4 linked regions of the Homo sapiens genome follow. The protein of the gene in region 3 interacts with the protein of the main gene of each other region in a biochemical or structural test. Each region holds a gene or a part of one and is shown on either strand. Other genes may lie near its edges. The genes, in order: SH3GL3, SH3GL2, RAPH1 and VASP.

The links.
Region 1: the proteins of RAPH1 (region 3) and SH3GL3 interact in far-western blotting, tested with the Homo sapiens proteins (one study listed by IntAct).
Region 2: the proteins of RAPH1 (region 3) and SH3GL2 interact in far-western blotting, tested with the Homo sapiens proteins (one study listed by IntAct).
Region 4: the proteins of RAPH1 (region 3) and VASP form a complex in vitro, tested with the Homo sapiens proteins (one study listed by BioGRID).

Annotation. Positions count from the first base shown.
Region 1 is NC_000015.10:83,611,316-83,618,352, reverse strand, and holds part of SH3GL3 (endophilin-A3), read right to left. Parts: intron 6,940-7,037; exon of another isoform or gene 6,936-6,939; coding exon of another isoform or gene 6,766-6,935; intron 272-6,765; coding exon 66-271; 3' UTR 1-65. UniProt on the Homo sapiens protein: Implicated in endocytosis. May recruit other proteins to membranes with high curvature.
Region 2 is NC_000009.12:17,785,050-17,792,086, forward strand, and holds part of SH3GL2 (endophilin-A1), read left to right. Parts: intron 1-1,331; coding exon 1,332-1,475; intron 1,476-2,330; coding exon 2,331-2,464; intron 2,465-4,342; coding exon 4,343-4,501; intron 4,502-6,181; coding exon 6,182-6,285; intron 6,286-7,037. UniProt on the Homo sapiens protein: Implicated in synaptic vesicle endocytosis. May recruit other proteins to membranes with high curvature. Required for BDNF-dependent dendrite outgrowth.
Region 3 is NC_000002.12:203,532,292-203,539,947, forward strand, and holds the start of RAPH1 (ras-associated and pleckstrin homology domains-containing protein 1), read right to left. Parts: upstream 3,011-7,656; 5' UTR 2,820-3,010; intron 1,941-2,819; exon of another isoform or gene 1,918-1,940; coding exon of another isoform or gene 1,869-1,917; exon of another isoform or gene 1,097-1,868; coding exon of another isoform or gene 1,074-1,096; intron 1-1,073. UniProt on the Homo sapiens protein: Mediator of localized membrane signals. Implicated in the regulation of lamellipodial dynamics. Negatively regulates cell adhesion.
Region 4 is NC_000019.10:45,524,448-45,527,489, reverse strand, and holds the end of VASP (vasodilator-stimulated phosphoprotein), read right to left. Parts: intron 2,921-3,042; coding exon 2,830-2,920; intron 1,545-2,829; coding exon 1,487-1,544; intron 1,351-1,486; coding exon 1,313-1,350; 3' UTR 507-1,312; downstream 1-506. UniProt on the Homo sapiens protein: Ena/VASP proteins are actin-associated proteins involved in a range of processes dependent on cytoskeleton remodeling and cell polarity such as axon guidance, lamellipodial and filopodial dynamics, platelet activation and cell migration.

The sequences.
Region 1 (7,037 bases), on a different chromosome or scaffold from region 3:
CTGAGAGCACACTGGTGTGAATTCATTTCAGTTACGAAAGTATGTCCAGAGTTTGTGTTACACATTTACTGAGGTAAAGGCACGATCACTTCCACGTAATTAATGGGGAAGAATCCCGATTCTCCGTGTATCATTCCTTCATACCAGTTTTCATCTATTTGATTGGTTAATGTAATGATGTCCCCTTCTTTAAATCCTAATTCTCCTTGGTTTTCTGGCTCAAAGTCATAGAGACCACGACAGCAGGGCTGGTCCATGGGAATGTTAGAACCTGTCCACATGATATGGAGACAAAAAGTACAGATGAACATGATGGATTATCCATGGGAAATTGGAAATGTGGAAAAGCTCAGAGAGACCCTTAACAGCAGGCCTTGCTTCCTTCCCACAAGGCCAGCTCCACCCAGCTCACGGTGCCGTTTGTGGTCTCTGGCTGCCTCAGCTCTCCCAGCTGCCTGCGCCAACCCCATGAGCCCAGAGTCTATCTTTTCAATACTCCCAGGCAGAGAAGTCGTGCCCAGCCCATCTCCCAAAAGCAGCCAGTCAGCTCCACCTGGAGCCCTAAGGGAGCGACAGAGGAATCACAGGCCCACCTCCTTCTCTCTGGGAGCTTACAGTTTCTTTGTGGGGATTAGAAAATACACGAGAAACTTTTATTTATTTATTTATCTATTTTTGAGACAGAGTCTTGCTCTGTTGCCCAGGCTGGAGTGCAATGGTGCGATCCTGGCTTACTGTAACCTCTGCCTCCCAGGTTCAAGAAATTTTCGTGCCTCAGCCTCCCAAGCAGCTGGGACTACAGGCATGCGCCACCACGCCCAGCTAATTTTGTATTTTTAGTACAGGTGGGGTTTCACCATATTGGCCAGTCTGGTCTCGAACTCCTGGCCTTAAGTGATCTGCTCACCTCAACCTCCCAAAGTGTGGGGATTACAGGCGTGATCCACTGTGCATGGCCAAAAATCTTTTAAAGAACAAATATGAAGTGTGTATCACTCATGGTTCAGGAGCTCTGGGGAGAGGGTAGTAGGGAGGACCTTGGTGGTCAGCAAGATCTTCCTAGTTAATGGGCAGGACAAGGGCCGGGAGGAGAGAAACCAGGACAAGAAAGGCAAGAATATTTACAGACCAGAATTTACAGACAAGAATATTTACTGACATCTAGTCCCAGAATAACATCAAAAACATTTTTTTCAAAACAAAATCATGCTAATTGTAAACAAAAAATACATGTATGCAAAGTGGAGAAAGAAAAGTCAGAGCTGTAAACCATTACCCCAGAGATAACTGGGCTAGCTTTCAGATTCCAGATGTCTTCATGATTATATTTGTGCATATATTTACATATAGTTGTTTTCATAAAAGATTCTTCTTGTACAAGCTAGGGTGAATATCTTTCAATTTTAGTTACTGACTAGCTGTCAGCTCTCACAATGTAACATTTCTTCAACTAATCTCCTATTGTTGGACATTTACGGTTCTTCTTTCTTTTCCTTCCTTCTCTTCTTTTCATCTCTTCTTTTCCTTCCTTCCTTCATTCTTTTCTTCCTTCTCCCTCCCTGTTTTTCTCGATTTCTCTTCCTTTTTCTTCATTTCTTTCTGTTGTCTCTTTTATTCCCCCTTGGCTTTTATAGACAATTCTTTGGGAAAAAGAGCTTATACATAAATATCTACAAATGTGCACTATTAATTTCTGAGGATAAATTCCAAGAAAAGGATTTCATGGTCATAGAACATGAATTCTTTCTAAAATATCTGACATTTAGTGTCAATTTATTTTTCTATTAGGTTGGTGCAAAAGCAATCACAGTGGCCAGGCGCAGTGGCTCACGCTTGTAATCCCAGCACTTTGGGAGGCTGAGGCGGGCGGATCACGAGTTCAGGAGATCGAGAACACAGTGAAACCCTGTCTCTACTAAAAATACAAAAAAATTAGCCGGGCGTGGTGGCGGGCACCTGTAGTCCCAGCTACTTGGAGAGGCTGAGGCAGGAGAATGGCGTGAACCCGGAAGGCGGAGGTTGCAGTGAGCCAAGATCGCGCCACCGCACTCCAGCCTGGGGGACAGAGCAAGACTCCATCTCAAAAAAAAAAAAAAAAAAAGCAATCACAATTTTTACCATTACTTTTAGTGGCAAAACCTGCAATTACTTTTGCACCAACCTAATATCACTATTTTTCTTAAGATGTTTAGAAGTCCCTTTATACTACACATATTTACCCTTTATCTGTCATTTCTGGTACAAACATTATTCCCAACTTATCATCTGTTCTTTTTTTTTCTCATTTTGTTTTTGAAGTTTGTGCTGGCAGTGGGGCAGGGAAAGGGGTTTCTATTTTGTTTTGGCATGAATGCACAAATTGAAGAGTATAAGCAGTCAAACTAATCAAACTTTCTATTCATGGTTTATTCTCCACAGTCCTATATAAAGACTCAACTAAATTTTATTCTAGTATTTTTATTTAATTTTTTTCACATCAGAACTTTTATAATCTATTTGGATTTTGGCAAAATGAGGTAAATATCTATTATATTTAATAATGCTTATGCAGTCATAACAACATACTTAAATAATCCATATTTTCTCCAGTGATTTCAAGTATTGCCTTTATCTTTATCATATATTTAATCATCATGGGACTTAGATCTATTTTTGGATTTTTTCTATTTTGTCCCACTGACTCATTTTGGTAACAGTACCATATCATTTTAAATACTGTGGCTTTATAATAAATGTTAACAGGCCGGGTGTGGTGGCTCACACCTGTAATCCCAGCACTCTGGGAGGCCAAGGCGGGCAGTTCACTTGAGGCCAGGAGTTTGAGACCACCCTGGCCAACATGGTGAAACCCCATCTCTAAAAATACAAAAGTTAGCCAGGCATGGTAGCGCATGTCTGTAATCCCAGCTACTCAAGAGGCTGAGGCAGGAGGATCACTTGAACCTGGGAGGCGGAGGTTGCAGTGAGCTGAGATCACACCACTACACTCCAGCCTGGGTGACAGAGTGAGACTCCATCTCAAAAATAAATAAATAAATAAAATGTTAATAACTAGTAAAACTAGTTCATAGTCATTACCCTTCTATTTCAATATTTCCTTGCTATTCTCATGAATTCATTTAACTAGGTATATTTCAGTATTAATATGACACATTTCTCTCACAAAAATCTCACTTCAATTTTGACTAGTTCATACTTTTTTTCTTTGAGTATTAATAAGATTAATCTTAGGAGTTTTTTTTTTTCTTAATAAGTGACTTTTGCCATCCTATTTGATGATTTCCATTTTTATTTCCTTTTTCTGTTATAAGACTTTTTCCTCCCTCTAGACTTCAAGTGAGAATTGAACAAGTTCTGCTAGAGATTATGTTCTTTCTCCACTAAGTCTTCTAGGTCCAAGTAAAGAGAATAGGTACGTTGGGGTATTTCTGTGGCTGGCCAAATGAGATGCCCCTTTGTCCTGGGGAGGGGTAGAGAGGTGACAGCATTATGGGAGGAGGAAGACAAGAGTTGGGGCAATGGAGATTCCTGTTGTGAGAAGGATTATATTATAGTTGTTTAGACAGCTTGAAATTCATGGAGTAGCGCCTATATCTCTAAGGAACAGGGCACTCTAAGGAGCCTTCATCAGCGGAGCTCCCCAGGTTGTACCAAGGTGGCTTCCTGTTGCCTTCCTATGGCAGTGGTTCTCAACTTGGTGGCACACTAAACAGCCCACTGCCCAGGGTGAACCCGGCATCAGTATTTTTTGTTTCTCAGGTCCTTCCTATGTCCAGGGTAGGTTGACAACCACCAGTGAAATGATCCTCCCCTCTCCTTCCCCTAAGGAAGCGTTAAAGGTTAAAGAGACTCAGCTGGCGAGGAAAGAGAAGGGGGTAATGGTAGGGGAGCTCTTCTTCCTCTTCAGGGAGGCAGCTCCTGTACTGGGTCGTGACTTTGAAACTCTGAACCCACCTGCAATATAACCTCTATGATCTACATGATGTTTCTAGCCTCTAGACAGCTCCTTCCGTGACAGACCCCACCCCTGCCTAAGTCTGTGTATTCCTCTTGTCATAATGATGAAAGCTAGGGGGTGGAAGGCTGTAAATATTGGGGATTAGTTCACTATTTTGAATTTGAACAGAACAACATTCAATGATTTCAAACAAAGCATGGGGAATAGAGGGCTTACAATACAGAACTTTTCATTTTCCTTGGGTCATGGAGTGTGTATATGGGTGGGCAGGTGGGGGCTGAGCACTGAAAACCAAGGGCAACCTGAGCTGTGAGTCAAAGTCTACTTTATTAATGTATAACTGTTTTAATGTGGATTATAAAAATAATTATTATTCTTTTAGCATTTCTCCCACTACTAGACTAGTTTTTAACAGAGAAGGGGTCAGGTGCCAAACCACATGGTAGTCTCGGGAAGCATTTCCTTGAACACAGAATGTTAATGCTAGAATGGAATTTGGCAGTCCTCCATGAGTCCTCTCCTTTTCCAAGAGAAGCCATCAATGCCTCTGAGAGGTCATAATGGCCTGGCCCCAGGGCTACTGGCTGAGCCAGAAACAGGAGGGCTCCAGACCCTAGGCCATCAGCTACCTTGCTCCATGTCACCTCGTACATGATCTATGACACCACTAAGGGTTGCCAAGACATTTCATAGGCTGACACACTGATTACAGGGCTAATGATAGATAGATAGATAGATAGATAGATAGATAGATAGATAGATAGATAGATAGATTTATATATTTCCCTCCCATTTACTCTATAAGCCACCTGCAATGACCAAAATGCTTAGTGGCAAGCATACATTTGTCCAAGTGTATGCACCACCTCCATGTGTAAACCAGGCCACCACCTCCATGTGTAAACCTGGGTTCTTGCTGCACACACACACAGAACAAATCATGGAAAAGCTGCATTACTCACTTCTCATGTCATTCATTCTTGGCAAGGAACCACTGCCACATTGCCCACTTTGATATTCTGAGAGCTGGAAAGAGACCAGCACTCATATCACACTCCATCAGCACCTAAACCCAAGGCAGGGCATCTCTCCAGAGACCACTGAGTAGAAAGACCCTGTTCAAGAACTCCCTGACTCAGGCAGTACAAGTGCACCTGGCCCTCCAGCCACCACTGGGCTGGCTACAACACTAAGAGCAATTGGCACTTGCTAAGTAGGCAGTTGGTAAATCCACCCCAACCAGAGCTCAGACTGGCTGCCCTGAATTATACATGCAGCCGGACGATATTCTGAAGTATCAATGCATTTTTCATTCTGGGTCATTTCTGTTGCCTGGGGCCCTCAACCCAAGGAGCTGGGGCTTGCCTCCCTTACTTGAGGAGGAGGGTGGAACCCAGACATGAACAAAGCAGTCAATGTTTAGCTTTTAAATTCCCAAATAATACCATTTCAGTTGTGAAACATTGTGAAAGCCAAGGCTTTTAGGCTTTCATGCTAGAGCCAGGTAGGCTTTTATAAGATTTAAGAGCGAGAGAGAGAGAGAAACTTCTGGGTTCCAAGAACTAGAGCTTGAAGAACTCAGAGCCTAGCATTTTGATTACAAGCCATGGAGAGGGAGGAGCTGTTTCCTGCCATCCAGAGAAGAGATACAAGCTCTTTCTGGAGGCAGGGAAGCAGGGAAGGGGCCTGCAGTGAGAAGAGGGTGAGCAAGAAAATTGAAATGCTCCTTGGATGCCACCCTGGGGAAGGGGGTCTTAGACTCCACTTTCCACAGAAATCCCGGGAGAAGGCAGCTGTCAAAGTTCTCTGGACTAACACGGGGGCTGGAGCCCAGTGGAAACCATGTGGTGTCACTAAGTACAGATGGGGCCTGAAGGCTGGTCGCTCCCTGTGAACTGTGAACAAATTCCCTCAAGTCCCCAGCAGGAAGTGCTGAGGGGCCACTGAGGCCAGAGGCTGCCTGGGGGCAGTGACACACGGCTCCAAATACAGAGATTCAGCAACCCAGAGAGGGAGGCCTAAGCCACAGATGTCAGCACAGATCCTGGCCCAGGCCCCAGGCCTCCTGTGACGAGTCACCTCAGCTGTGGAAGTGAGCCTCCCTACCTGCCACCATGATGTTCTGTAAACCCCCCTCACATCTAGGCAACATCTTAGGACTGGACCAGGGGGAGGAGAGAACCTTCAAGAAAAACCAACAGCCCTGATAGGGAATTTCTACTCTGAATTGACTGTGTTTAAATCTGGAATCGCCTAAGTCATAAACGGATAGTCTATGCTTTCTATTGGAAGAGACTGAGCTACCTTGAAATGGCAAGATTATGCTTTTTTCCACCATTAGAAGAAATGGAAAAAAGATTTTAAAGCTTTTTTTTTTTTTTGGTCAACAACAGAAATGGAAAAAAGATTAAGTTGTTTCCGCCATTGGTCTACATAGAGGCTTGCAAGCAAGTTCAGTTCAGCTAAAGAGAAATTAAGTTGCTGCCCGCCTGAGGGACAGTGTGTGAATTTTCCCTTGACACAAAAGTCACCATGGATGGAGCCCCAAAGTCCAGGCAGAATGGGCTGGATTTCCTCAATGGAGGCTTTCCAACTGTTAGATATAAGCCTCTCCAAGGGACCTGAATGCTTGGTTTCCCACCATCAGAAGCCAGCACCTCAGCTGAAAACGTCTCGTAAGAAAAGACTGATCCTACCCAGCGTCCCATCCCTGTTGACAACCCCTTCCCCTTGCCCCTGTGGTCCTGCAGCTGGCAGTTCCTCATCCACCTCCACCTCCTTGCTCTCTCACATTCAGTAGCTGGCACCTGGAATCGCTGGGCATAGTTGTGTAGGAGCTCCCAGGTGGCTGCTGTGGATCTCGGTGTCCTTGAACAGGCGGCTGAAACCCCTGACCCTGGGCTGTCCAGTGAGACGGCTTCAGCCAGCACTGCCCTCCCCAAGTGGCCTTGTGTTGATTTTCTCTTACTCCTGAGACCTGGCTTCAACGAAACGTGAGAGCAGAGGTGGGAAAACACAGTCTTCCTTGTTAAAGTATTGAAACAAAGATTATTTTAACAGAGAAAAGGGAGTGTCCCTG
Region 2 (7,037 bases), on a different chromosome or scaffold from region 3:
TTTATATGAAAAAGCAAATAAGAAATGAATTTTATATTTTTTCCAGTCACCACCAGCCTTTACATGTGCTGTTAGCCTAACTGCTACATACTGTTTGGATCTAAACTTAAAGATACTTCCCTCCAGGAATCCTTTGCGATGCCCCTCCCCAACTGATGAGGACAGTGCCGCATATCTGGGACTCTCCTCAATCCCCCATCAAGGCACTTGGCATATTTACTTCACTCTAATTAATTTTAAAATAGACTCTACCCTCAGTTCATTATAAACTTTGTGAAAGCAGGGACCATAATTGTCGTGCTCATTGTAATATCCCTGGGACAGGGTTGCAGGATGTGCTCTCCTGATAACTTTTCTCATCTCTATTCAATGCCTCTAAGACTCAAAGTTTAAATAAAAGCCTTGTGAAATAAATGTCAAGATTGTCAGCCACTGAATGCTGGAAGTACCTTAAGCTGTGATTCTATCTGGGGTTTCCATTGAAGATGGGATTTGGGGTATAGTCCTAGGTTAATGTGTAATCCCAACTCTAATTTTGAACCTGAGGAACCTAGGTATCCTAGCATCAATTAAGTCATAGGCTTTAACAATTTTTTTAATAAAGCTGTTTTTGCCACTAACACTGGAATTGGTTTCTAGGCAACTTCTTTTATAAAAACAAAAACAAAGAAAGAGAAATTGAAATGTTCTCTTTGAGGCACAAAACTAATTTTCTCTAGTTATGTGCTGGAGAAGTGATTAAGTCTTTTAAATGAACACAGTATTTTTGCTCTTCATGGGTCTGTTTACCATCAGAATCTTAGTTGAGAAATGATTTTGAAAATAGTTCTGTTTCATACATGGTATAAGTGAAACAAGGCATAAGGCCCACTCTGCAGGAATTTACCATTGGTTCCTTATTTTAATCCTTAGACTCCTAGAATTGAACTATAAAACTAGAATAAAATTTAGAGATCATCACATAATTCGAGAGTTTGTAAAAAGCTCTCCATGGAAGCACCCAGCTCCACAGAGTCACTGCAGGGGCCACCACAGTGAAGGGAGGATGGGGAAGGGCACACAGTGATAGAATTTGAGCGTGTAATCCTGCTTCATCCAGAACAGAATTGCTGTAATTCATTTTAAGATCTTAAGGGAAAGGGAGAGTTTAGTGCTTTAAAAAAGTGGTTGATAAGACTGACTGACGGAGAGAACACTGGAGCGTACTGAAGGTACACTTATCAGTAGCTGAGCTACTTTGTAGGCTGCTCTGAGACCTGATCCTCCATCCAGCCCTATTTCCGCAGTGTCACATTGCCTACTCTGAAAGCTTGTTCTCTCTTCACCTTCAGCTTCCAGAGCTAAGCTCAGCATGATCAACACCATGTCAAAAATCCGTGGCCAGGAGAAGGGGCCAGGCTATCCTCAGGCAGAGGCGCTGCTGGCAGAGGCCATGCTCAAATTTGGAAGAGAGCTTGGAGATGATTGCAACTTTGGTAACAAGTGCTTCCTCACATTGTAATTCTTTCATTTGTCCATGGGGATTTTGGTGCTGGTAAGAAATTCTGTAGGGAATCGGTCAAATCATTTTATATTTTGGTTTTCAGTTTTAGATCCTACACACATGGGCCAAAAATTTGTTTTCAGAATTATTTCATCCGCTCTAATGTGATTTATCTTACAAGTTTTCTTCCCACCCCCCCCACTATAAGACCTCAGTCTTTACAACAGCTTTGGTTGACATATCCAGATGCCTCCTTGGCACTTTCTATTGGGTGTTTCTGGCAGTCATTGAGTATTGAAGCAGAGTGAGCAGGCACAGTCAGCATGATTCAAAGCCCTCCCTGCCTCATGGCCTTTTTCATAGATCTTTGCTCACTTGTATATGGTACCTAGTTCTACTGCCCAAGGTGAGACATGATTTATTCCTTCACCCTGTCTCCCCCAAAACTCAGCTACCACACCCAACATCTTCTATTTTCACCCCCTTGTGATGTGGGATCTCCTTCCTGGTTGAACCCGGCTATTTCTGGTACTTGCTTCTGCTAATAGATTTGCCTTAAGCTAGTCCCACATTAGGGAAAGCTGGTACTTACAAGAGAGGGCAGGGAGCTTCCTAAATTGCTTCTTAAAGGAAAAAGTAACTGTTCCATTCTTGATGAGAGGTATTTACCCTCTTAGGGGGCATTGAGTCTGTTGCCTGGAGTGAACTGAAGATACCTATTCTCTCTTGTCTGTTGTCTTTAGAAGACAAGTGGTAATCCTTTGGGTTTTCATCTGTGAAGGGCCCTGTTATTGCGAGTGCATTTCATCTTTATTCTGTAACATGAAAGAGCTTTATTCTCTCCTAGGCCCAGCACTTGGTGAGGTCGGGGAGGCCATGCGGGAACTGTCGGAGGTCAAAGACTCTTTGGACATAGAAGTGAAGCAGAACTTCATTGACCCTCTTCAGAATCTTCATGACAAAGATCTTAGGGAAATTCAAGTATGTACAATGAGTCTTCTGGAAAGTGGGCAGTTGAAATCATACAGATGCAGATGCCTTTTTTCTTTAGAAAACATTTTTTTAGCTTACCCTGTGTGTTGTCAGCTCTGGGCACGTTAATTACAAAACAACCCAGTAAGACAAAATGAGAGAAACCAGAAATGTGATACTTTTCAGCCTGTTATGACTGTGCCACTCATGAGGGCTGTCTCTGGCTTCTCTATGTTTGATTTTCATATTGAATAGTTTTTTTCAGACTTTTTCTCCAGAGGATAATATACTTTTCCTGAGAATACACAGTTTTGTTAATTATTCTATGGTTTGCTGGGCTGATTTCACCCACTAAAATGTTAGTTGTACTAGTTGTTAGCTTAAATAAATAGTTATTCTATCACTGCATAAGCACATATTTTTATTTTTTTCCAAGTCTAGAAATTAGATGGATGTTATGTGTTTTTATATTAATATTTTCATAATGGTTGTTAGGATTGAGGAAGAATACCAACTAGCCACTTTCTAAAACATGTAGAGCAGTTGAGCTGTTTATAATAAAGTTCATATGTCTTTGAGTGTGGAATGTTTGCTCACTTTTTTTTATCTAACAAATATTTGTTGAGCTTTTTTGAAACTTTGTTGGGTGTAAAATGGATTGCCATAACTTGAACTAGGGCCTCCTCCTCCTTATTCTAGCTTAAATCTCCTTTAGCAGTACCATTTGCTCAAGATTATAGAGTTAGTAAGTGACAGACTGACCCTAAATCCAAAATAGAACTCTGACTCCAATGCTGTACCCTATAGCTCAAATGTTTAAAAAAGAAAGTTCCTTCCAAATGAGCATTTAGTTTTTGGATCAGGGCATGGACTGAGGGGCGGGGGATGCAGTGTGAGGGAAGGTTTAGAATATTATTCTTCCTCCTTTCCTTTTCATTTTTTTAACTACTCCCTACTTTGTTTTCATTTCCTTTCATTCTGCTCCATACATACTAGTAACAAGGGAAAATCCAGGATTTTCCTTCATCCATTAGTAGTGAAAGACTAGCTATCGGGGAAAAACAATACTTTTTAGCTTTGGAAAACTACTTTGCTACCTGGTCACTAGAGATGATGGGTGGAGCCTGGGCAGCCATCTACCAGGTATGGTGCAAGGAGGGGATTGAAGCTCAGCATGGAGCATTAGATATAATCCCTTGGTAGGTCCCTTCCAAGTGAGATTTTGTTCTTGAGTTCAATTATATGTCAAGTGGGAGGCTTAAACTAAATCACTGGATTTAGTTTCTCTGGTGACAGCTGCATCAGTCAGCTGGGGCAAGTGTTAAGATGTAGATTCCTAGGCCCCCACCCTAGATATCGATTCAAGAGCTCAGGAATCCATATTGTGATGAGCAACTTACGTGATTCTAACAGACTGGATGATTTGAAAAGCAAGACTGCCATTTCTATCTCACTTAATTTCAAGGAAAGAGTTTTTCCTCTGGCTTCTCATGAGATACCATTTCTCTTGAAGACAGGGCCTGTGGGGCCTGTGAGTGTGTCCTTTCATTGTGTGTAGGGCATGTGCATTCCTTCTCTGTTTCTGTCATGGGCTGCAAAGGCTTAGTCCAGCTTGGCTTTGGCCTGACAAGGCCAGAAAATAAAGGGCACTGATATTTCCTATAATTTATCTTTTATTCTTAATTATTTTTAAAGATATTCCCCCATATTTAGCCTTTGAAAGCACTGGCCCCATTGATGCATGTTTCTTTATTTCTCTGGTGGCGTTGTATTTTAAAACTTAGCCTATCTTAATTTGGAAGTTAATGGACGTGATGGAGAAGTGAGCTCAAATAAGCCTTTTCCATAAGCCCTTTCAAAGCCTATTCCTGCCCTTGACTTTTGCAGCATCATCTAAAGAAGTTGGAGGGTCGACGCCTGGATTTTGATTATAAGAAGAAACGACAAGGCAAGATTCCGGATGAAGAGCTTCGTCAAGCTCTAGAGAAATTTGATGAGTCTAAGGAAATTGCTGAGTCAAGCATGTTCAATCTCTTGGAGATGGATGTAAGTGACTCCTGTGGTTTTCAATTTAATCTTATCATCGAGGCACAACATTAATATGTTAAAGGCCATAACCCTTAAAAGCATTAATATCTGATTACACTATGTGATAAGAACTTCAGTAGATAGTTATTTATTTTAAATAATTGTCAGTCATAAAGTAGACTGAGAAATAGAAAAGTTTCTTCTGCATTCCTGTAGTTTAACTAGATTCTCGACTGCTAATGAATCTTAAAGTACAGATGCTCCTTAACTTATGATGGGGTTAAAGTCTTGAATATATCATGTAATTTATCGAATAACGCATTAAAAGTAAAAAACAGAATGGTTGTAAGGGTACTTGAGGTATGGTTTCTACTGAGCACATATCAATTTTGCACCATCATAAAGCCTACAAATCGTAAAGTCAGGGACCATCTCTCTTATCAATAGTGGGAAGATAAAGGATATTTCTGAGGATCTATGTATAACTCAATAGAGGCCTGAGAACTCAGTTGTGGAGCAGGGGGCATCAGTAGTACTGGTGCAAGTCCCAGAGTCCAAAGGCCAGAAAGCCTAGAGCTGTGACATCCAAAGACAGGAGCGTATGGGTGTCCCTTCGCTAGAAGAGAGAGAGAACAAACTTGCCTTTCCTCTGCTTTTTATTCTATCTGGGTCCTGAGCTGAGTGGGTGGTCTCCACCCCCATAGGGAAGGGCAGCTCTTCCTTTGTTTAGTCTACTAAGTGAATGCCAGTCTCCTCTGGAAACACCCTAACAGACACACCCAGAAATAATGCTTTACCAGCTATCTGGGGATCCCTTAATCTAGTCAAGTTGTCACCTAAAATTAACCATCACATTGCCTACTTGCCTTACTCCTGACTGTGGCAGGGGAAGTGTGTTGAACATATCCAGACTTTCCTACCACCTGGAGACAGTGTAGGTTTTTGTTTATGTAAAACAACTTGTGTCCACCTAACTCCTCGAGAGGAATACTGTGTGCATGAGGGGTGCTCCAAATCACAGTGCTCCTTCCCTGCAACACAGCACCCCTCCCCATCCCCAAATTCATGGGACAACACTGCTTCTGTTGACTTGGAGGCTGCTACCCAGCTGGATCATAATGTGAAACATAAAATCAAGAGAAATCAAGCTTAGAATATTAGAGCAAGAATGAACTCAAGATGTCACTTGATTTAACCCTTTTACATTACAGATGAGGCTCAGAGAGCACAGAAGATTTTCTGTCATACCATGTCGCCTCTCCGGGTACATTATGTGAGATATTGTCACATTTTTATTAACAGTACCGATATTAACAGCATGAAAAGTATAAGGAACAAAGAGTCCTTTGGCCAGTGTACCTTCTTTTCTATAGAATAAAAGAAGTCAAATCCCAGATACAAGATTGTAGCTAAGCATGAGACTCTTTAGAGCTATATGGTCTTCCTGAGGGTTACCCATGTTGCTTCTCCTCATGGTACTGATACGCATGATTCTAAGCATAAGGATGCTTTCTTTTATCCTTGATGGATTTGAAACCTGCAGAACTATCTATCTTAGTTGGCTTATCACACAGTCATCAGCACCACCAACCAGGGGCTGTGTGTTGAGGGCAGCCCTGGTGTATGTATGAAACAGTAGTGGCTGTTTAGGGATGGTAACGTGTAAAACTAAGGCATGATTTTCCCATCAATCTGCAGATTGAACAAGTGAGCCAGCTCTCTGCACTTGTGCAAGCTCAGCTGGAGTACCACAAGCAGGCAGTCCAGATCCTGCAGCAAGTCACGGTCAGACTGGAAGAAAGGTATTCTACAGTTCCCTGCATTTCACATTTGCATTTTATTGCTATAAAATGATGTATAAAGAAATGGAAATCATAGAATACATTTGGAGACAAACGTCTGCCAAAATTCCGCTTATCCTACAGAGGCGCCTTGTGGATTGTTTTGATTTTGTTTTTTCTTGTGCTTTGTTTTACGTTGTTCTGTTGAATCTAATTTTCTGCTTATGAGAGATCGATACTTGGATTATATTTTGGCTGCCACAGGTGGAACACCAGGATGCTACTGCTGATAATGGATGCCATTTGCTGAGCAGTTATTCCATGTGGGTACTGGATACATATCATCATCAATCTTATAACAGCCCTGTAACCTAAGTGTTTTTAGCCTCGACTAACAGATGAGTAAACTGAGGCTAAGAGAGGTGAAGTAACTAGCCCAGGGTCACTCAGTGGTGCAAGTGGAGTTCACAGCCAGCCATAACCTGTGTGAGAGGCTGTTTCTTTTCACATCTTGTGTTTCTCTGAATGGCGGTCAAGTCCTCTGCCATCAGAGAGAGCTACTTTCACCTCATTAGATGTACCTCACAGCAGGGCTGTAGTAGTAGGAAACTACCGTGTGAATGTGGCTCCGTGGAGTTGTGGGGCACAGCCTGTTTGGCTATATACCAGTGGCCCTATGTTATAATATGTGTTATTTTAATTTAGCCAGATTAAACAGGATGATTTTGCTGAACATGTATACCTCAAAGGGTCACCTCAGCAAGCTTTTTTCT
Region 3 (7,656 bases):
TTCAGTTTGGGATGATAAAAAATTTCTGGAGATGGTGGTGATGATGGCACAATAATGTACTTAAGCCACTGAACTGTACACTTAAAAATAGTTAAAATGGTAATTTGTATGTTATGCATACTTTACCACATTTCTTTCAAAGAGTATATGTGTGTGTTGCTTTAGTGGCAGTGTAAAAACATGGTTAAGAATACAAGCTTAAGAATTAGGCTGCCCGGTTTCAAATCCAGCTCTGCCACTATAGCTCTGCAGTCTTTGGGCAACTTATTGTCTGTGCCTATTTTCTCAAATAATAGACTCTATTTCATAGGGTTATGGCGAGAATTAAATAAATTATCACATATAAAGTGTTTAAAACAGTGTACGTCATACAGTGGCCACTTTTTATTATTATAAGTTTAAAATACATTTTTATTGAGATTAAAGTCAAACATCTGCAGAATCTCTGAAATTCTCAAGTTCAGTGAAACAGTTTAAGAAGCAGTGATCTAATCCAAACTTCTCATTTTATAGGTAAAGGAATTAAGAGTCCAAGATAAGTTATCTGCCTGAGGTCACATCTTGCTTCACTAATATTAATTTTCCTAAAATTAAGTGTTTGGGATTAACAATACTAATGTTGACATTCAATTACTTCCAAACCAAGGCAACCAAAGCCATGAGATTCTACAATGTGTAACCAAGAATCTGTGAATAGTGTGACAGTTATCCACGATGCCAATCTAGTAAGTATTTATGGGGTGAGCACCAAAGGGCAGCAAAACCAAAAGACATAATCATCCTCAAAGACAATGGTTAAAAACACCTCTTTGGAAAATAAAGAGTTAAATATTTGTGAAAACACACCCAATAGTGCCCACTACTCCACTCCTTTCACCCAGTCACATACTCTATAATCTTAGTGAGACCTCTGAGTCTGAAAAATAAGCTGCTGCTTCTACCAAATAAAGCTAACGTTTATCATAAGGCAACATCTACAAATAATTCTTTATTACATTCAAACAGGAGACAGCAATCTAAATTATACAAAATGTCTAACCCAAAAAATCATGAATTAAGCTTTTTGTACTTACTTGAGTAGGGCTGCATCTGGTTTCTGGGAAATTCACCACACAAAAAGCAAAATAACGGAGACAATCTTTGAAGGTCAGACTCAACAAGAGTTAAAAGCTATTGAGCGTCTCTATTTTGCCCCTCCCCCAAAGGTCCTCCCCCTCAATTCGGCTCTCAAAGGATAGCACCACCATGTGAAATGTCCTCCTCCCCATCTGAATCTGCTGAAATCCTACTCATCCTTAAAGGTTTCACTTAAATGCCGAGGCTTCCATGCATTCCTCCCTCAATTTAGAATTAATCTCTCTTCTTCGCTCTCCTATTCTATACCTCAACATTTTACTATATAGTTCACTGTATTACACTTACCTACATTCACTAACCCCCCGCACCGCACCCCCAAAAAAACCACCCCGAGGAGGAAAGGAATTTAAGGTGCTGTTAAACACCTCTATGCCAGGCAAGGTGCTACGCATTTTGCATACATTATCTCATTTAATCTACATGAAAAACATCTGGGGAGGTAAACAGGTGGTGTTATTCCCATTTTACTGATAGGGAACGTACTGCAGAGTTCAATAGCTTATCCAACTCACATTGCAAGCCAATTCCAGGGCGTACGGTTTCCCCCACTCCGAAGAGCTCTTTCCACCACCCCATGCTTGTTCACCTGGTGTCACCCAGCCTAACTGACAGAGTAGGTATTCCATAAATGTTTGCTGAATTTAATATCCCCATGGACTGACTCTTTAATAATCCGATCACGCCTCATCCCTAACCCGTTACCTTTACTGTTCCTTAACGGTGGACTTTACCTACATAAGCAGCTCTCCACATTTCCCTGAGAAATGCTGCAGACAACATCAACCCTTATTGGAAGATTGAGTGAAGAACTTTTCCATTCTCCCGGATTTCCCCAACGGATCTTCCCAAAGAATTTAAGAAATGCACACACGCAAGACACATGTAACACTTACACCCTCCCTCAAGGCTCTTATTTCATATTAAACCATGTCTTCGAGCTTGTAAGCAATAAGGTTTATGCGGTTTCCAGCTCACACAGTGGGGACACCCTAAGTCACTGCCTTAAGAAAACCACATCTTTCAACCTGTCTTAACACGAAGGCATCCTAATACTATCACACTGCCCCCTCCCTCCGTCCACCCCCCCCCCCCCCCCATGAATTGCAGTTTGGATTTCCGGCGGGAATGTATAATACAGACCGCAAGAGGAGACGCGGTTAAAAAGCAATGAAGCAATTACTTATCCTGTTTAATTAGAAAGAAGACACAGAAGGAGCCCCGCCTTTCAAAATCTCTGCACTGAACTCATCTATGAAAGATGGGGGCATCGAAACCCAAGCAACCCGACATCCAGTAGCTGGTTTCTGCAGCTGGGCGGGGGAAAGTCCTTTCCTCCCTGCGGTCCCGGGCCACCAGCCCCCGGTGCTGGGTCGGAGAAGCCTAACCGCACCCTCCCAGGCGGCCCCTTATCTCATTGTCTCCCTCCGTCGCGGTCCCCAGGGGCGCAGGGTGCAGTCCAGGCCCCACCGACCTCCATCCACCAGCCGGGAGCGGTCCAGCCAGCCCCGGCCCGATCCCCAACCTGGCAACGACCCCGCCCCAGGCTGCCGCCGACCGTACCGCACCCGGATGGCGGGGCCGGGCGCCGGGAAAATGGAGGCGGGAGCGGCAGGAGCGCCTCACGGCCCCGCGCCCAGCCGGCTCCCTACCCCCTGGCCCCGAGGGCGAGGCTAACCACTCACCGCGGCAGTCGGTCGGCCTTCCCGCGGCCCCGGGCAAGGAAACCGCCGCTCGCGCTCCTCCAGCCGCTGCCTCCGCCTCCTCCCCAGGCGCGGCGCTCCCTCGCCAGAGACGCAGCGACTGCCAGCAGCTCCCGCGCCGCGCGCTCAGTGACTGACTGACTGACTGACTGACTGACTGACTGACTGACTGGCGGGCGGCGGCGGGAGCGGGGGCGGGGCGGCCGCAGCGCCCCGCGGCGGCGGCGGCGGCGGCGGAGCCGAGTGTGCTCGCGTCCAGCCGAGACGCAGAAGGCGGGGTTGAGGGCCGGACTGCCGACTGTAGGGCCGACTCGCGCGGGACCGCGCGCCGCCCCCGCCCGCCGCCAACCACTCACTTCCGGCGCAGGCCGCCGCGCCCGCCGCCCTTCCCTAGCCCGCGCCCCGCGCCGGCCCTCCGCCCTCCCTTCAGGCGCCCGGCCGCGCCCGGCCGCACTCAACCGCGGCTCCGCTCGTGCCTCGCCTTTCCTCCGCAAGTCCCTGTGAGCCGCCTACAGGAACGAGTGAATCAGAGAATGAATGAGTGGGGAGGAAAATCCCAGTGCTGCCCCACCCCCTGCTCGCCTTTCATAGGAAGCCGGCCCAGCAGCCTCTGTCCTAGCGCCCTGGGAGGCACAGCAGCCTCCAGCAGTTCTGTCAGGGAGCTGTACGCATCCACCTTTATACGCTGTCCGTGTATTCAGAGACTCCAGAAACGCATCCGGGGTTGGCTCGGTCACTTACAGGACCATTGTCGTTGAGATCTGTGAGGCCCTTCTTTAGGAAATCCCATTTTGGCCAAAAAGTCTCTGCAGTTTCATGGAATGTATTGGGAAACTTAGGAACGGGACATTTCGATGACCTTTACTTTTTAAACTTCGAAATCTGTTAATCCTGCCTCCTTAATTTCTGTCCCCCCACCCCATCGGAATTGTGTAGTAGTAAGGTGTCGGCATTTTTCCTTATCGCTAAGCTCAGCTGCTGCCTCTTTAGATGCAGGCTTGACTTCGGCAGACTTTTAGATTTTAAGTATGTCCTTATTTTGACCTTCACCTAAAGTTGATCAAAGAAAGGAACAAATGGAACTAAGTTATGTTTGCTTGGCTACATGCAAAGCAAGTTTGTTGACAGCATTAAAACAATTGAGAAATTGGGAGTGTGACCTGAAATTGGTTGCAATGAACATTGCTTTTTCATGTCTTCCCATCTGCTTGCTAAGAATTTATTTAAATTTTCACAAAGCATTGACTGTACATTCCTGAAATCCTAGCTCCCTCTCTAAGAATGAGAGTGTTCATTTCTCTGTCCTGGGGCCAAATCCTGGTTTGGTTAATTACATTCTTACTTCCTGATATTCTTGAGGACTTTCAAGTGGTTTCAGTCTTTTTTGTACAATCTGTTCCAAACTGGTACACAATCTGTTTCAAATTGGTATTTAGAACCATACAATACAGATACTGGCTGCCTTTCACACTTGAGATATCTGTACTTTTGAAACATAACTGCCCTTTTGTATTTTAAGTTCAGTAGGTATGTCAATATTCTTGTATAGAATAATACTATCTCTTGACTGGATTAAGAAAATGTGGCACATATACACCACGGAATACTATGCAGCCATAAAAAAGGTTGAGTTAATGTCCTTTGTAGGGACATGGATGAAGCTGGAAACCATCATTCTCAGCAAACTATCGCAAGGACAGAAAACCAAACACCACATGATCTCACTCATAGGTGGGACTTGAACAATGAGAACACTTGGACACAAAGCAGGGAATATATCACACAGGGGCCTGTTGGGGGGATGGAGAGGGGGGAGGGATAGCATTAGGAGATATACCTAATGTAAATGATGAGTTAATGGGTGCAGCACACCAACATGGCACATGTATACATATGTAACAAAGCTGCACGTTGTGCACATGTACCCTAGAACTTAAAGTATAATAAAAAATAAAAATAATAAAAGAATAATACTATCTCTTATAAATGAAGATGATCCTGCTGACCAACTTCTTTTAGACTTCTCTTCCTTTCTTGTGGGAATCATCATTTGCCACCTAATTATTTCAAGAAGTTATCCTCCAAAAGTGAATATAATACAACACTTTATTCATCCTTGTATCTCCCACAATATCTAGCATAGTATCTTGCACAATAAGTATTTATAAATTAATAAATGCTTTAAAATTTTTCATAAGTGATAATTTTATACAAATGTATCTAGTCTTTCACCTCATTTCCCTTGTGACCAAGTTTGTTGACATTAGACACACCTGGGTGCCAAACTTAATGAATCCTATTGTCATTAAATGTACTAGGCTGTGTGATACCTTACAAGGAAGATGATTCATTTAAACCTCCTTAAAAAAATAGACGATTGAAGCCAGGAGTGGTGGCTCGCACCTGTAATCCCAGCACTTTGGGAGGCTGAGGTGGGCGGATCACCTGAGGTCAGGAGTTGGAGACTAGCCTGGCCAACATGGTGAAATCCCATCTCTACTAAAAATACAAAAATGAGCTGAGCATGGTGGCGGGTGCCTGTAATCCCAGCTACTCAGGAGGCTGAGGCAGGAGAATCACTTGAACTTGGGAGTGGAGCTTGCAGTGAGCCAAGATCCTGCCATTGCACTCCAACCTGGGTGACAAGAGTGAGACTCCATCTCAGAAAAAAAAAAAAAATAGACCATTGAGTGCCTTTTACATAGGTCTTAGCCAACTCTTCTCCAAGTGCTTAGCCTAAGATCAAGGTTAATTAAAAGAGAAAAAAGGTCACTTTCAGTCATTGAGAAAAGAGTGTTCTCATCAGTTTCTTTAAACCATTAAATCATTCGTTCATTCAATCAGAGTTTATTAAGCTACAATTAAGGCCCAGGAATACAAAGACAAGAAAGACGTGGCATGATGCTTCCTGCCTACAAAAAGCATACAGTCTAGTGGGTAAAGCAGGTAAGGAAGTCATTGTTAGACTGGAAGTCCATTACCAGATCAGGAAAGCCTTCCTGATGGGGAGATTCTTGAACTGAATGTTAAATGATAGGGAGGAGCTAACCAGAAGAAGGAGGGAACAAGCATTCCAAACGAAGAAAACAATATCTCTGCAGGTGTGTGGAAGCACCAAGCATCACCATGCTTTAGAGGCACCGTAAGTGTATTAGTCCGTTTTCATGCTGCTGATAAACACATACCTGAGACTGGGAAGAAAAAGAGGTTTAATGGACTTACAGTTCCACATGGCTGGGGAGGACTCACAATCATGGCAGAAGGTGATGAGGAGCAAGTCACATCTTACATGGATGGCAGCAGGCAAAAAGAGAGCTTGTGCAGGGAAACTCCCATTTTTAAAACCATCAGATCTCATGAGACTTATTCACTATTATGAGAACAGCACGGGAAAGACCCACCCCCATGATTCAACTATCTCCCACTGGGTCCCTCCTACAGCAGGTGGAAATTATGGGAGCTATAAGATGAGATTTGGGTGGGGACACAGAGACAAACCGTATTAGTAAGTAATTCCATTTTGTCAGAACAGGCATAGAGAAGAGTCAAAGAGGTTGGAGGAAAGGGTAGGAAGGGCTTCATTCATGAAGGGGCTCTTGTTAAACTAAGGAATTTGAATTTGATACTCTGGGAAATGTAGTAAATAATAAAATATTTGAAGTATTTTAGCTCCAGAACAACTGAGTTTGTGTTTTGGAGACCAAGAAGACCAGACTGGAGCAGGAGAAAATTAGGAGGTGATGGCAACAACCTGAATCCTAATGAGATGTGTGCTGCAGGTCTCAATAAAATCAAGAGGTCATAAAATGGCGAGGAGGGACTAGATGGGAGATATATTAAACAGGTAGAATCTACAGAATATATAACTGGATATGAGGGAGTGAATGCAACAGAGACATTTAGAATGACTCTCAGGATTCTGGTTTAGAAGAGTGACTGAATGGTGGTGACCTCTGAAATAAAGAGCGTGGGAAAAGAGCAGGTTTCAGGGAACTGGCTGAATACCTGTATGAGAAAGAATAGTACCATAAATCCAGGCATCTTAGTCCATCATTTCCCCAAGTGTTCTTTGGAACTCTAGTCCCACAGGATTTTAGTAGATGTGATTCCCCCTCAAAATTTTAAGTTCCTTTAATCAAATGAGAATGCCAGACAGTTCAATGGGTTTCTAAACTAGAGAGATTTCTGGTGGTTTTAATATTTTAATGTGCACTGGGAATTTCTGAGGTAGATATTATATACAAGCGCTTTCCAAATGTATTCAACCATGAAACCCTTTTTCCAATGGAACATCTTACAAGACATGTGTTCCACAGCACATACTTTGGGAAATGCTGACCTAAACCAGATTTTTGGTTTATAGTAAAGGAAGCTGTAGCTTAAGGCATGAAGTGACTTGTCTAAAGTTAAACAGCTATTACTAGAAGATACTGGACTAAGGTCCAGTATCTTCTGACCCCAGTCACATTCTCTTTCCAGTACATACTGCTTTATGAGTTACAAACTCAATTCCAGCACCTTCCACCAATCATGGGGAGAGGAATAAAAAATTATGGAATATATCGTTTTAAATGATGTTTCCAATCAGTCATTTTTAAAGATATGCTAATTTTTAATGGTTAATATTTTACATAAGATAAAAAGATTTGTACATTGGAGAAGTGGGACCGATTATCACCTTCATATGATCTTTCTGATAATTGAACAGGAGACTTATAAAATTAAATTGCCTAACTAAATAGAATATTCATCTAGTCGTCCTATCCCTGAAGTAGCTTTAAATAAAATAAACTTTCAGGAATTGATAGAAACATTAAAA
Region 4 (3,042 bases), on a different chromosome or scaffold from region 3:
CTGCAGTGAGCTGTGATCCTGCCACTACACTCCAGACTGGGTGAAAGAGCAAGACTCCAACTCATTAAAAAAAAAAAAAAAAAAAAAGAGGAAAGAAGCTGGGAGAGTGGTAGAGTGGGGGCAGAGAATCATCTTATGAGCCCTTTCCCAAATCAGAAACTGAGGCCTGAGGTAAGCAAATGGACTTGCCCAAGGCTACACAAAGTGAGGCTGCTTCTGGCCTCCCCTAGGGTGGTGAAGGGCAGGGTGGGATGGGGAGGAAGTGGCCTCCTAAGGGGCATGGGGAGGGAGGCTGGAGGGGGCAGAGATCATCCTGGCTGCGGGCCTGAGGATGAGTGAGCAGGCGCAATATGCAGGGTGGGAAGGAAGATGAAGGGAAGGTGGATTCCTGGGAGGAGGCAGGGGTTCTCAGCAGAGGACCAAATCTTCCTGGAGGGGCACCGGGGGCCGAGCACACCTCCATCCCCATCAGAACAGGCCTTCAAATCACTCCAGAGATCTTAGCATTTATAAAAACTGGCAGATTTATTCTGCAGGGGCCCATTTTCAAGAAGCTAAAGGTGAAGGTGGGAGGGGAGAAGTTTCCTCCCCTTCTCCTTTCTCCCTCATCTTATTTCCTCCAAGGGGTAAAAAAAATGGCCTGGACCCCAAAACCTACCCAAATAAAAAATCAAAAAACTGAGGTTCCAAAAAGTTACAGCATCTTATTTCCTCATAGAAAAGGGGAAGGAGCCAGAGGGAAGGGGAGTCCCTGGGGTGGGGGGATATCTCACCCCCAGCCCGGTGAGACATCCCCTCCCCTTAAATAGCTGCCCCAAATGGGGCAAGCCCAGGGCTATAGCATTTAAAAACTCCCACATCCCATTTTATCAAAACCAAAGAGAAAAAAAAATTTCCCTTTTCCCCCAAAACCCAAATATATATATATTTTTTTTTCTTAAAAAAACCAAAACTTTGAAGGCATTAAGCGTTAAAGTGAATCTAGAACAAGGGAATGTGAAATTCCCTCCTTCCTTCCCCCTTCCTGTGGGGTTCATTGGTGCATCCCCAGCAGAGGGACCGGCCCCAAGGGGATGGCAGAGGGGAAGGACCAAAGGGAGAAAAGGGCGGGGGCCTCCCCAGCCAATCAGCAGCCAGTGTGGGTGTGAGCAGGGAAGCCACACCCCCTTGGAGTTTTCCAAGTGGGATGGGGAGTGGGAACGATGCATTCCTGTGTAGTCTTCAGCCAATTCCAAGTCAAGTAGAGGCAGGGAAAGCAGGGTGACAGGCCGGGTGTGCGGAAAGGAGAAGCGGGTCTTCTGGGTCCCTGTGGTCAGGGAGAACCCCGCTTCCTCAGCTCCTGGACGAAGGCTGGAAGGAAACAAGGAGCAGAGGTCAGGGGCAGAGTCTCTGCCTCCTCCCTTCCAAAACAGGGCTCTTGCCCAGGGACATGATGCCTCCAAAATAAGTAAATGTTTAAGAACAAAACCAAAGCAAACCACCTCACCTTCAATGATTTCCTCTTTCACTTTCTGCAATTCCTTCTTCACCTCTTCCAGAAGCTCCTAAAATTAATGGGGTAAAACTAATCAGGAGGGGGTACCGGGACTTGCAGGAATGAATCCCCCTTCTTTTATTTTTTGAGAAGGAACCTTGCTCTGTTGCCCAGGCTAGGGTGCAATGGCATGATCACAGCTCATTGCAGCCTCAACTTCCCAGGCTCAGGTAATCCTCCTGCCTTAGCCTCCCAAGTAGCTGGGACCACAGTCACCTGCCGCCACAATCAGGTAACTTTTTCTTTTTCTTTTTTTTTTTGAAACAGAGTCTCCCTGTCACCCAGACTGCAGTGCAGTGGCCCAATCTCGGCTGACTGCAATCTCTGGCTCCCGGGTTCAAGCGATTCTCCTGCCTCAGCCGCCCAAATAACTGGATTACAGGTGCCCCCCACAAGGCCCAGCTAATTTTTGTATTTTTAGTAGAGACAGGGTTTCGCCATGTTGGCCAGGCTGGTCTCGAACTTTTGACTTCACGTGATCCGTCCCCATCAGCCTTCCAAACTGCTGGGATTATGGCTGTGAGCCACCATTCCCAGCCTAATTTTTGTATTTTTAGTAGCGATGGGTTTCACCATGTTGGCCAGGCTGGTCTTGAACCCCTGACCTCAGGTGATCCACCCACCTCGGCCTCCCAAAGTGCTGGGATTACAGGCATGAGCCACCGCACCTGGCCTTCTCAGGTAACTTTTAAAAGTTATTTTTAGAGATGGGGGTCTCCCGATGTTGCCCCAGGCTGGTCTCAAACTCCTGGCCTCAAGCAATGCTCCCACCTCAGCCTCGCAATGTGCTGAAATTACACACATGAGCCACCGTGCCCTGCCAGAGTCCCCTCTTTCTTGTTGATGGAAAAGCCAGGGGTAGTAGGTTTGAGACCTACCCCTACATCGACACCATGACATCGCTGTCAAGGTCGCAGAGTGACTGGAGGATTCTAGGGGAGAATTCTGGATCCTTGGAGCCGGAAAAGTACTGGAGAACATCCAGTACCAAGGTTGGCAAGCGCATTCCAGCCTCCTGCCAACTCCAATTGGTGATGGACAGCTGGGTCAATGTGCGGAAAGAATTCAAGGCACTCATCTGGAATGAGCGCGGTGATAGATTAATAATGTCTGTCACAGGTGCCAGAAAAGGGGGTGTGGAGTCTCGGTCATCCTTGACCCAATCCAGTTTCTCCATTTGTCAGATTGGAAACCTGAGGTTTCTGAGATGTTATCTAGGATCATACGGCATGCCAGTGGCAGGGGCCAGACCTAGATCTCTCTTGCTGTGGTCCCCAACTTCCCCCCCAAGTTACCTGTTTCACCCTCTGTAGGTCCGAGTAATCACTGGAGCTGGGCGTGCAGGGTTGGGTCTCGGAAGTGGTCACCGAAGAAGACGACTTCATCCTGGGGGAGTTGGTGTGGTTTGGGACAGCAATGAGATTAGAGAGAGGACCTGCTTCCCCGCCTCCTATTCCAGGGGTCACATTGAGCTCTGCCTTATAAATTGGGCAAGTCCAAGTATTTTT